2 separate regions of the Homo sapiens genome follow, and region 1 is linked to region 2. Evidence: fine-mapped expression QTL. A gene starts in region 2. The other region holds a variant in brackets. All regions are shown on one strand. Distances are between the middles of the regions. Region 1 overlaps FRMD4A (FERM domain containing 4A). Region 2 holds the start of FRMD4A-AS2 (FRMD4A antisense RNA 2).

Evidence for each region.
Region 1: its variant is fine-mapped to the expression of FRMD4A-AS2 in lymphoblastoid cells (GTEx, PIP 0.99).

What each region holds. Positions count from the first base shown.
Region 1 is chr10:13,914,636-13,919,026 of GRCh38, reverse strand. The region is part of intron 2 of FRMD4A (FERM domain containing 4A); the gene reads left to right. Among named protein-coding and RNA genes, the nearest start is that of FRMD4A-AS2, 75 kb to the left of the region's middle. The variant C/T (reference allele first, on the strand shown) is at 2,063.
Region 2 is chr10:13,989,730-13,994,120 of GRCh38, reverse strand. It overlaps FRMD4A-AS2 (FRMD4A antisense RNA 2), which reads right to left and starts at 2,541. Exons shown (of 3, transcript NR_199003.1): 1 at 2,129-2,541. All of the region lies in intron 2 of FRMD4A (FERM domain containing 4A), which reads left to right.

The sequences.
Region 1 (4,391 bases), 75 kb after region 2:
ATTAAGATGAGCTTCCTAATTCTAGAAAGAAGCCACCAGACCACAGATGCCTGTAAATCAGCTGTGAAGACATCAGATAGAATCATTTGGGCATAAATAGGAAATTAGGGGGGCATTTGTCATTTAAATATGTATTTGAAAGCTTTTTTTTTTTTTCTTACAAAAAACCATTTTGCTTTGTTTTATAACAGTATTGACTGGCGGGGCATGATGGCTCATGCCTGTAATCCCAGCATTTTGGGAGGCCGAGGCAGGCGGATCACTGTGGTCAGGAGTTCGAGACCAGCCTGACCAACATGGCAAAACCCCATCTCTACTAAAAATATAAAAATTAGCCAGGTGTGGTGGTGCACACCTGTAATCCCAGCTACTCAGGAGGCTGAGGCAGGAGAATCACTTGAATCCGGAAGGCAGAGGTTGCAGTGAGCCGAGATCACACCACTGCACTCCAGCCTGGGCGACAGAGTGAGACTCTCTCTCAAAAAAAAGAAAATTGTATTGACTGATATTCGTAACAGACATGTAGCAGAGCCTAGAGCTTTGCACATAGTACTTGACTGAAAATTAGTTAAGGGAATGAATAAATAAATAAATAAATAAATGAACCACTCTAACATCCTGCTTTGAAAGTTCAAGTTTCTAAAATTCTACGTGACATTTTTACTGCTTGTTCATAATATCAGAGCTGGGGGCTAAGATGGGGGTCATTTAGACTGGAGACGTCATTTAGCATTCATTAATTCAAAAATGGTGTATTGAGCCTAGTATGTTCCAGGCACTGTTCAAGGCTCTGGAGATACAACAGAGAACTAAACAGACCAAAGCCAGGCCTGCAAGAAACCCACATTCTAATACAGGGAAACAGACAATGGACAAATAAATAAACATGCAATATAGGAAGTAATGAAAACAAAGGAGAAGAATAAATCTCAGTGCTGGGGAAGAGAAAGCAGTTTTAGGTGGAGTGTCTCCTTTTCAACAGCAGGTCAGCTGAATTCTCCGCACTGGGAAATGCCTGTTGACTAAGGTAATAGTGATCACTTTTTGTAGAGTGATTTACAGTTGACAGTGCGCTTGCCCACACCACATCCTCTGAACTTTCCTGCAGCTCTTTGAGATCCTAATACTCCCCGTGCTATCAGCAACAAAACTGAGGAGCAGAAACTGATCAAAGGGCTCACCCAAGGCCATGCACCTTGTGAGTGCCAGTGCCCAACTGTGGCTCAGATTTCCTGTCCCCTTTGCCGGGTGTTGCAAAGAGAGGGACCTTCGGTGCCAGCCCTGCCAACTGGGGAATGAGAAAGGGTGAGCTGTTGGGTTTGTGTCCTGCTTGGTTACTCTTTTCTGAAGTTTGATATTTACAGTCCTTGATTTGTTTGTTTACCCCCTAGAGAGAATGAAAGTACAGTGTGTGTATATTATTAAATAAAATCTGTGGGCCGGGCATGGTGACTCACACCTGTAATCCCAGCACTTTGGGAGGCCAAGGCAGGTGGATTGCTTGAGGCCAGGAGTTCAAGACCAGCCTGGCCAACATGGTGAAATCCCATCTCTACTGAAAATATAAAAATTAACTGGGCATGGTGGTGCATGACCATAATCCCAGTTACTCAGGAGGGTGAGGCAGGAGAATCACGTGAACCCAGGAGGTGGAGGTTGCAGTTTGCAGTGAGCCAAGATTGCGCCACTGTACTCCAGACTGGGCGACAAAGCGAGTCTCCATCTCAAAAAAAAAAAAAAAATCTGTGATGGATATTAAGATAGAACCAGATAGAAGAATTGGGCAGAATTAAAGAATCTCCCAACAATATTAATATCCGCATGCTTATCCCTCCTGTGTTTGTCAATCCGAATCACACCCTAGCTAGGAGCTGCATAATTTGTCACCTGACTTGGTATTCATCACACTAAAGCCACTTCTTGGTGATGAGAATCTTTATCAGGAAGTATGTCATCCCTGCTATATTGAAACTTTTTTAAAACACTGTTTTGAGAGCCAAAACTTCGGTGAGCACACAGAGACAATTCTTTTCCTACTTAGAACAATCCAAGTATAAAACCT[C/T]AAAGCAGATTTCTCTCACACAAAGCTTTCGTTTTAAATGTGCTCGGCCACTGTTTATTTCAAAGCCATGTGAGATTATCTTTTTCTTCTGTTTCTTTCTTTTTTGGGGGGAAATGAGTAGAATGTTTTTCTTCTTCTCCTAAAAACAAGCAAACAAATACAAAAGAAATAATCAACACATATTTACTGAAAATATGGTATGGTTTTAGTGAGGTGCTGACGTCAGCATGATCGGCATGAGACACTAGAGAAAAATGTAGATTTGAATTTACAGAGAGATTTGAATTCTACATTGTACATTGAATCTACAAACAGAGATTTGAATTCTAGCTCTACCACACACTGGGGAACCTCAGGCAAGTTACTGAGCCTTGGAGCCTCAGGTTCCTCTTCTGTAAAATGGGTATAACACCTGCTCTGAACTGTCATTATGGGACTAGGTGAAATAGAGACTGTTCAACATCTGGCATATGTTAGTCAATAAATGGCACTATTACTACACACTAGTTGGGCCTTTGCTCAAGGGCAATAAAGACCTTGACCTGGGCTGGGATCCCCAAAATCCAGAAGGGGAATGGGCAGGGCTGGGCCTTAAGAGTAGATGTAGAAGCAAAGGAAAAGTGAGATCCAGGATCCTCGGAGTGTGAGGACCAGCCATAGACCCAAGGAAGAAGATGGGAGGCAAAGCCAAAGTGAACAATCTACAGCGGTGACCAGGCAGATGATGGAGCTGAGCGGGGCTCCCTGAGACCCTTCCCTGGTGGGGAAGAGAGAATGAAACCTAAAGACTTCACAGCCAGAGCCACGGTCAGGCAGCCACAGGGTGTAGCAGGGCTCATAGATGAGATACTGGCTTCCATCTTGAGAGATTTTGCAGTTCCAGTTGACCTGCCGTCAGTGCCATTGCAGATCATTGCGACTTCTCCAAGTCTGTGCCTTCAGCAGTGGTGAATTCAGACAATGTTGTGTTTGTTCTCTGAATACAAATTACTAGTGTTGGGAAACCACAGTGCCTGAGCCAACCCCCCAACTGGAGCTCTTTGTTCGCCGTGCCTGGTCCCTGACTCCAAGAGCCAGAAGGGACCTCAGAGGTCAGGAGGCCAACCGCCCACAGGGAGCAGGGATTCCCTCTGCAGCGGGAGCACAGGTGGTGCCCAGCCTCTGCAGGAACACTCCAGGGAGAGGACACTCACCCACCGCTTCCAGAAAGCCACCTCCTTGGGTAGCAGCTCTGAGTGGCACAAAGCCCTTTGTGCAGTCACCACAAAATCTGCCCACTTTTTTTTTTTTTTTTTGAGATAGAGTCACTCTGTCGCCCAGTCTGGAGTGCAGTGGCGTGATCTCGGCTCACTGCAAGCTCCGCCTCCCAGGTTCATGCTATTCTCCTGCCTCAGCCTCCCGAGTAGCTGGGACTACAGGCACCCACCACCATGCCCGGCTAATTTTTTGTATTTTTAGTAGAGACGGGGTTTCACCGTGTTAGCCAGGATGGTCTCGATCTCCTGACCTTGTGATCCGCCCGCCTCAGCCTCCCAAAGTGCTGGGATTACAGGCGTGAGCCACCGAGCCCAGCCTCACTTTTAAGCCCCGCTTCCTGACCCTTTCCACTTAGTTGGTCCTCCTTCCATGCACCAGCACTTAACACATCTAATCTCGAAGAAAACCGTGCTCCAGTTCGCTAGCCCCCGCCTTCCCACTGCTAGAGCTATTCTTTTGGGGACTAGACATCACCATTCCCTTCAGTCATTGAAGCTGGACCTGAACACTTCCTCATCCTAAATGCTCTCGCCTGGATTTGATGAAATTTGCAAACATCTGTCTTAAAATGTAGCCATGAAACAGAACACAGTACTCCCTATAATGTTGTTAATATGTCGGTCCCATTAACTCCCAGTGAGAACACTGTGGTTTGTTGTGGTTTGCTGTTGTTGCTGTTGTTATTGTTGTTTTCGAGGCCAGGTCCCACTCTGTTGCCCAGGCTGGAGTGCAGTGGTGCATTCCTAGCTCACTGCAGCCTCCAACTCATGGGCTCACGCAATACTCCTGCCTCAGCCTCGTGAGTAGCTGTGATTACAGGCACACGCTGCCATGCGCAAATTTTTTTTATTTTTTGTAGAGATGGGGTCTCACTCTGTTGCCCAGTCTTGTGGTTTGTTTCATATACTAATATTGCATGAGCTTTGGGGTCCACCACATCACACTTCAGCCTCCTATTCAGGTTGCTGTCAGTAACATTCAGGTTGTATGGGTTTTGTTTTTTTAATGCTGCTTTTCTCCTCCTACACGTAAGTAGCTGGTCTGTTTAAATCTTCATTCCACATTGTTAAAT
Region 2 (4,391 bases):
AGCAGAATCGCTGAACCCGGGAGGTGAAGGTTGCAGTGAGCCAAGATCGCATCACTGCACTCCAGCCTGGGCAACGAAGCAAGGCTCCATCTCAAAAAAAAAAAAAAGGACTGTCCCACCCTAAATATCTACATATTCTCCCCTGCCCCAGGCTTGATTTTCATAAAAAGGAAACATCTTGCTACAAAAAAAACTAATCTTAAAATAGATCCTCAGGCCCTCCAGCTGCAGCATAATCCTAGTGCTAAATCAGAATATATATTTTTTTAAAAAAAAAAAACCTATTCTGACAGGTCAAATGCAAATTTTAAAATATATTTGAATACATTGAATACACGTCCTCCAGCTAGAGGAAACAGGAAGATGACATCCTCTTTGCTGAGAACATGGTTTTATTACCTAGCAATAGGACAACAACTTCAGAAGCAACTGAACCTCTGGTCTAATTATTGCCTGATAGAACAACTTATTAATATCATCAGCAACATTTTTTTGTTTTGGGAAGATATTCTCCATTGATGGTGTTAAAACAGAACAAATCAAGCAATTTCAGCCAATAGAACAATCACCCTACCACCTAGAGGTATATTTTGCTAACTCAAATTTGCAGACCAGCAGTGTGTGGTCCTACTTAAAACTAGAGATTGCACAAGAGCCAAACAGAGGTTCTTTTATGATCAAGGTGGCTGACTGGTAACAGCTGGACTAAAACCTTTCAGTTCTAAATCATCTCTTTCATGCTAGATGGAGTGGAATTCTGGGGTCCCAGCCAAGTCCTTGAGCAAGAACTTGAATGGATTCACAGCTCCTTTTCTGATGGAAACGTTGGCTAAACCCTGAGGAACTCTGGATCTCACCACGATGTCAAATAGAATGATGTCCCTGCTGGGGGAGGAGGCAAGTCAGGCTTCTCCATTGTCCCTTCTAAACAGCAGCTCACACTTGTCACATCCACAGCAGAGATGCAACTCTTCAGTTTTAAACTCAGGATGTCCTCACTGTCTCTTGCCGGATAAGGCAACTTTGAATTCACTACCTTCTAGCACTTAGCCCAAAGTTTTGTAGGGACATAGGACACGCAAGAGAAGCAGATCAATGGATATGTTGGCTAGTCATTACTTTAATCTCTTTACACTAAATCCTTTTTTTTTTTTTTTTTTTTTTTTTTGAGACAGAGTCTCACTCTATTGCCCAGGCTGGAGTGCAATGGCACAATCTTGGCACACTGCAACCTCTGCCACCGGGGGTCAAGCGATCCTCCTGCCTCAGCCTCCCAAGTAGCTGGGATTACAGGCATGCGCCACCATGCCTGGCTAATTTTTGTATTTTTAGTAGAGACAGGGTTTCACCATTTGGTCAAGCTGGTCTTGAACTCCTGACCTCAGGTGATCCGCGTGTCTTGGCCTCCCAAAGTGCTGGGATTACAGGTGCGAGCCACCATGCCTGGCCTACACTAGATCTTTATTAAATTAAATAATCAAATATCAACATAGTTATGCTGTATTTTCTCAACTCCCTGCTGAAATTATTTTACAAAGTTAAGATTTAATTCCTCTCTATTGAGGGCTGATGTTTAGTGTCATTTTGTTTTGAATGAGCAGCAACCTATTCTTGGCCTGGACTGGGGCTGGCCATGTGACCCGAGACTTAGGCAGGACATGGAGGTGGGTGGGCAGGACCCAAGGCCAGGCATGGGAGTTTGCTGGGGTCAGTGAGCCTGCAAGCCAACCCACAGACAGGCTAAAGACTCATGAATCCGGTTAGATGTGTCAAATATAGCTGGAGAATCAAGAAACAGGTGGAGACCAGAGAAATCAGAGGAGAAGAAACCAATTTAAAGCAAAGGTAGAAGCAAGTGTTTGTAGAAACCCCTTGAACCACTGGCATAGCTCCAGGCATGTCTAGGCATAGCCTGGGCTATAGGCAGAGATGAGGTGGTTAGGATGGTATCTTAGTATCATCTTGCTGAGAAAGCCAGCAGAAGAAACATCTATAAGCACGCTTCTGAGGCTTTTTCAAAATGACCATTGAAGATCTTGTTCCTTATGTTATTCAGTGCTTTTTATATATTCCACTCCGTTAATTCCTTTTAGAAGATAATAAGAAGTATGTGATTCAATGTACTTACCTTTTTACCTTTGCTGCCAGGAAACTCAAGCTAAAGTTGAGGCACAACCTCAGTAACTTGCTCATTCTGGATGTCTTTTCATACTTTTAACTTATTGTTTTCTTCTTTTTTTCTATTTTAGATTACCCTTAATTTTCTAGTTTACCCTCATATTCCATGTAAATATGTGCACATATTTTGTGCCTTTGCCAAGCAGCATGGAATCCTATAACCTTCTCTTCTGTGTGTGTTACTTTCTGTAAGGGAAACCAACACAATGGAAACGTAGCCCATTGAGAGTAAAAAATAGAACAAAGTATGCTACTTCCCTTCTCTTGGCAGAACGCATTGTCCCAACAGGTGTATCAAAAATGCTTCAAGGTAAGCCAAGACATGGGAACATTGTGCTCTGAGCAAGGTGGTTCTTTTTTCCCAGAAGGGAATGAATTCATTTGGAATGTTAGGCCCTGACAGAACAGAGCCACTCCATTCCACTCCATTGTGTCCTGGGAGTACACAGGGACTTGGTGCAGCCCCTAGAGGCAGTGGCAGTTTACAGGCATTCCTGGGAAGAACAGAGGGGGTCCCGTTGGAGGAAAGCAGGTGCACACTGTCCTGAATCTCCGCGCCTGATGCCCACCTTCATACAAGCTGCAGCTATGCCTGGGGGATGACAGTTCTGCAGAGTCCAAACTCACAAGGATAAGGGCTGGAAAAGAGGCTTTGCTGGTTTTCTGTTCCCACCAGGATGTTGGAAGCCTCCTTTTTGTCCTTTTCACTCTACGCTTCTTTTTTCTTTTCCTTTCTAAATGTTGCTGTCAGTGTACTCAGCTGAATGCTATCAGATACACAAATAACAATAGCTTCCTGGGAACGATTTGCTGCTGTGGGTCATGGGCCAGTGCCAAGAAGCCCAGGCACGCCAAGCACAGTGTTTTAGGAAAACCGCGGCTTTCAGAGAGCAGCTTCAGGATAATTGTTCAATTCCATTAGGGATTCTGGCTCCGAATGCACCTCGGAACCTGGCCCCAGTGTCTCCTCCAGGGGAACTTAGAGGTCCCCCACTCCATACCTTGGCTGGCTTTCTTTTTGATTTGTTTAATTTTCAAGAACCATCATTACTGGAATCTCGTATCTGATTGCGGTGTTCATGGAAAGAAAAATGGGAACAAGGGCTGAGAGACAGTGAGGCTTCCAGGGTGATCAGGTTGACTCGCAGAGGGAGAAATAACAGATTCCCAAATGCGGATTCTGGCACTTACACGTTTCTGAGTTTCCGATCTGGAGATCGGAGAGGTCACCGTCCTAGGGCTTGTCAGCCTCGCCAGCCTGCTGGGGCTCCCATTGTTCTGCTCAGAGTCCGGGAAGCAGATCCTGCTCCCTGATGACAGCTTCAGGCCGAGATGTTCCTGCAATGGAAGGTTTCCCGGGCAGGCTTTGCTTCCATCCTGGAGAGAGTTAACCAGGTCAGCCAGGGTCAAGGAGCAGATATCAAGTTACATATTTTCCTCCCTCATTTCCTAGCACACTCCCAGACATGCTCCACAAGGAAGGCCAGGAAGGAAGCATACCCGCCCAACAGACAAGACAGGCCAGGACCCTGGAAAGAAGAGGAAGGCACGTCTCTGGGCCTTCTCAGTCCTTACTTCCTCCTCCCTCCTTGTCCCACATTCCCCTCTGGATGGGTCTCACTCTCCAAGAAAATGGCCAGGAGCAAATCCAGGCAGAGAGGGAAGTTACTGAGACCCAGAAGCACAGCCAAGAATAGAAAGTACCTTTAATGAGCTCTTTCTATGTGCTTAATCTATGCAGCTGTTTTCTCCTCTGATCCTCAGAGCAGCCCTTTGAGGTTGGCTCTTATTCCTAACCCCACTTTCTAGAATAGGAAAACAGAGAATAGAGAGAGATTAAGTCATTTGTCCAGGGTTACGCAGCCAGCAGTGGCAGATCCAGGGTTTGAACCCAGGTAGTCTGACTTCAGAAAACTCTCCAGAGCGAATCTAAATGGGGGTCTAACCTAGAGTGAGACCCTTGGAATCCAAGCTGCTGAGAAAAGTGTCCCTTTAGAAAGGAACTCTAGGTCTGGTTGCCAGATTCAGCAAATGAAAATACAGGATGCCCAGTTACATCAAATTTCAATAAACAATGAATCATTCTTTCATCTAAGCATGTTCCATGGAGTTTGTCTGAAATTCAAATGTAACTGGGTGTCCTGTATTTTATCTGGCAACTCTTAACTATAGGGCCACTCCCATCTCTCTGCCCTCTGTCTTGTCTTCCTCTC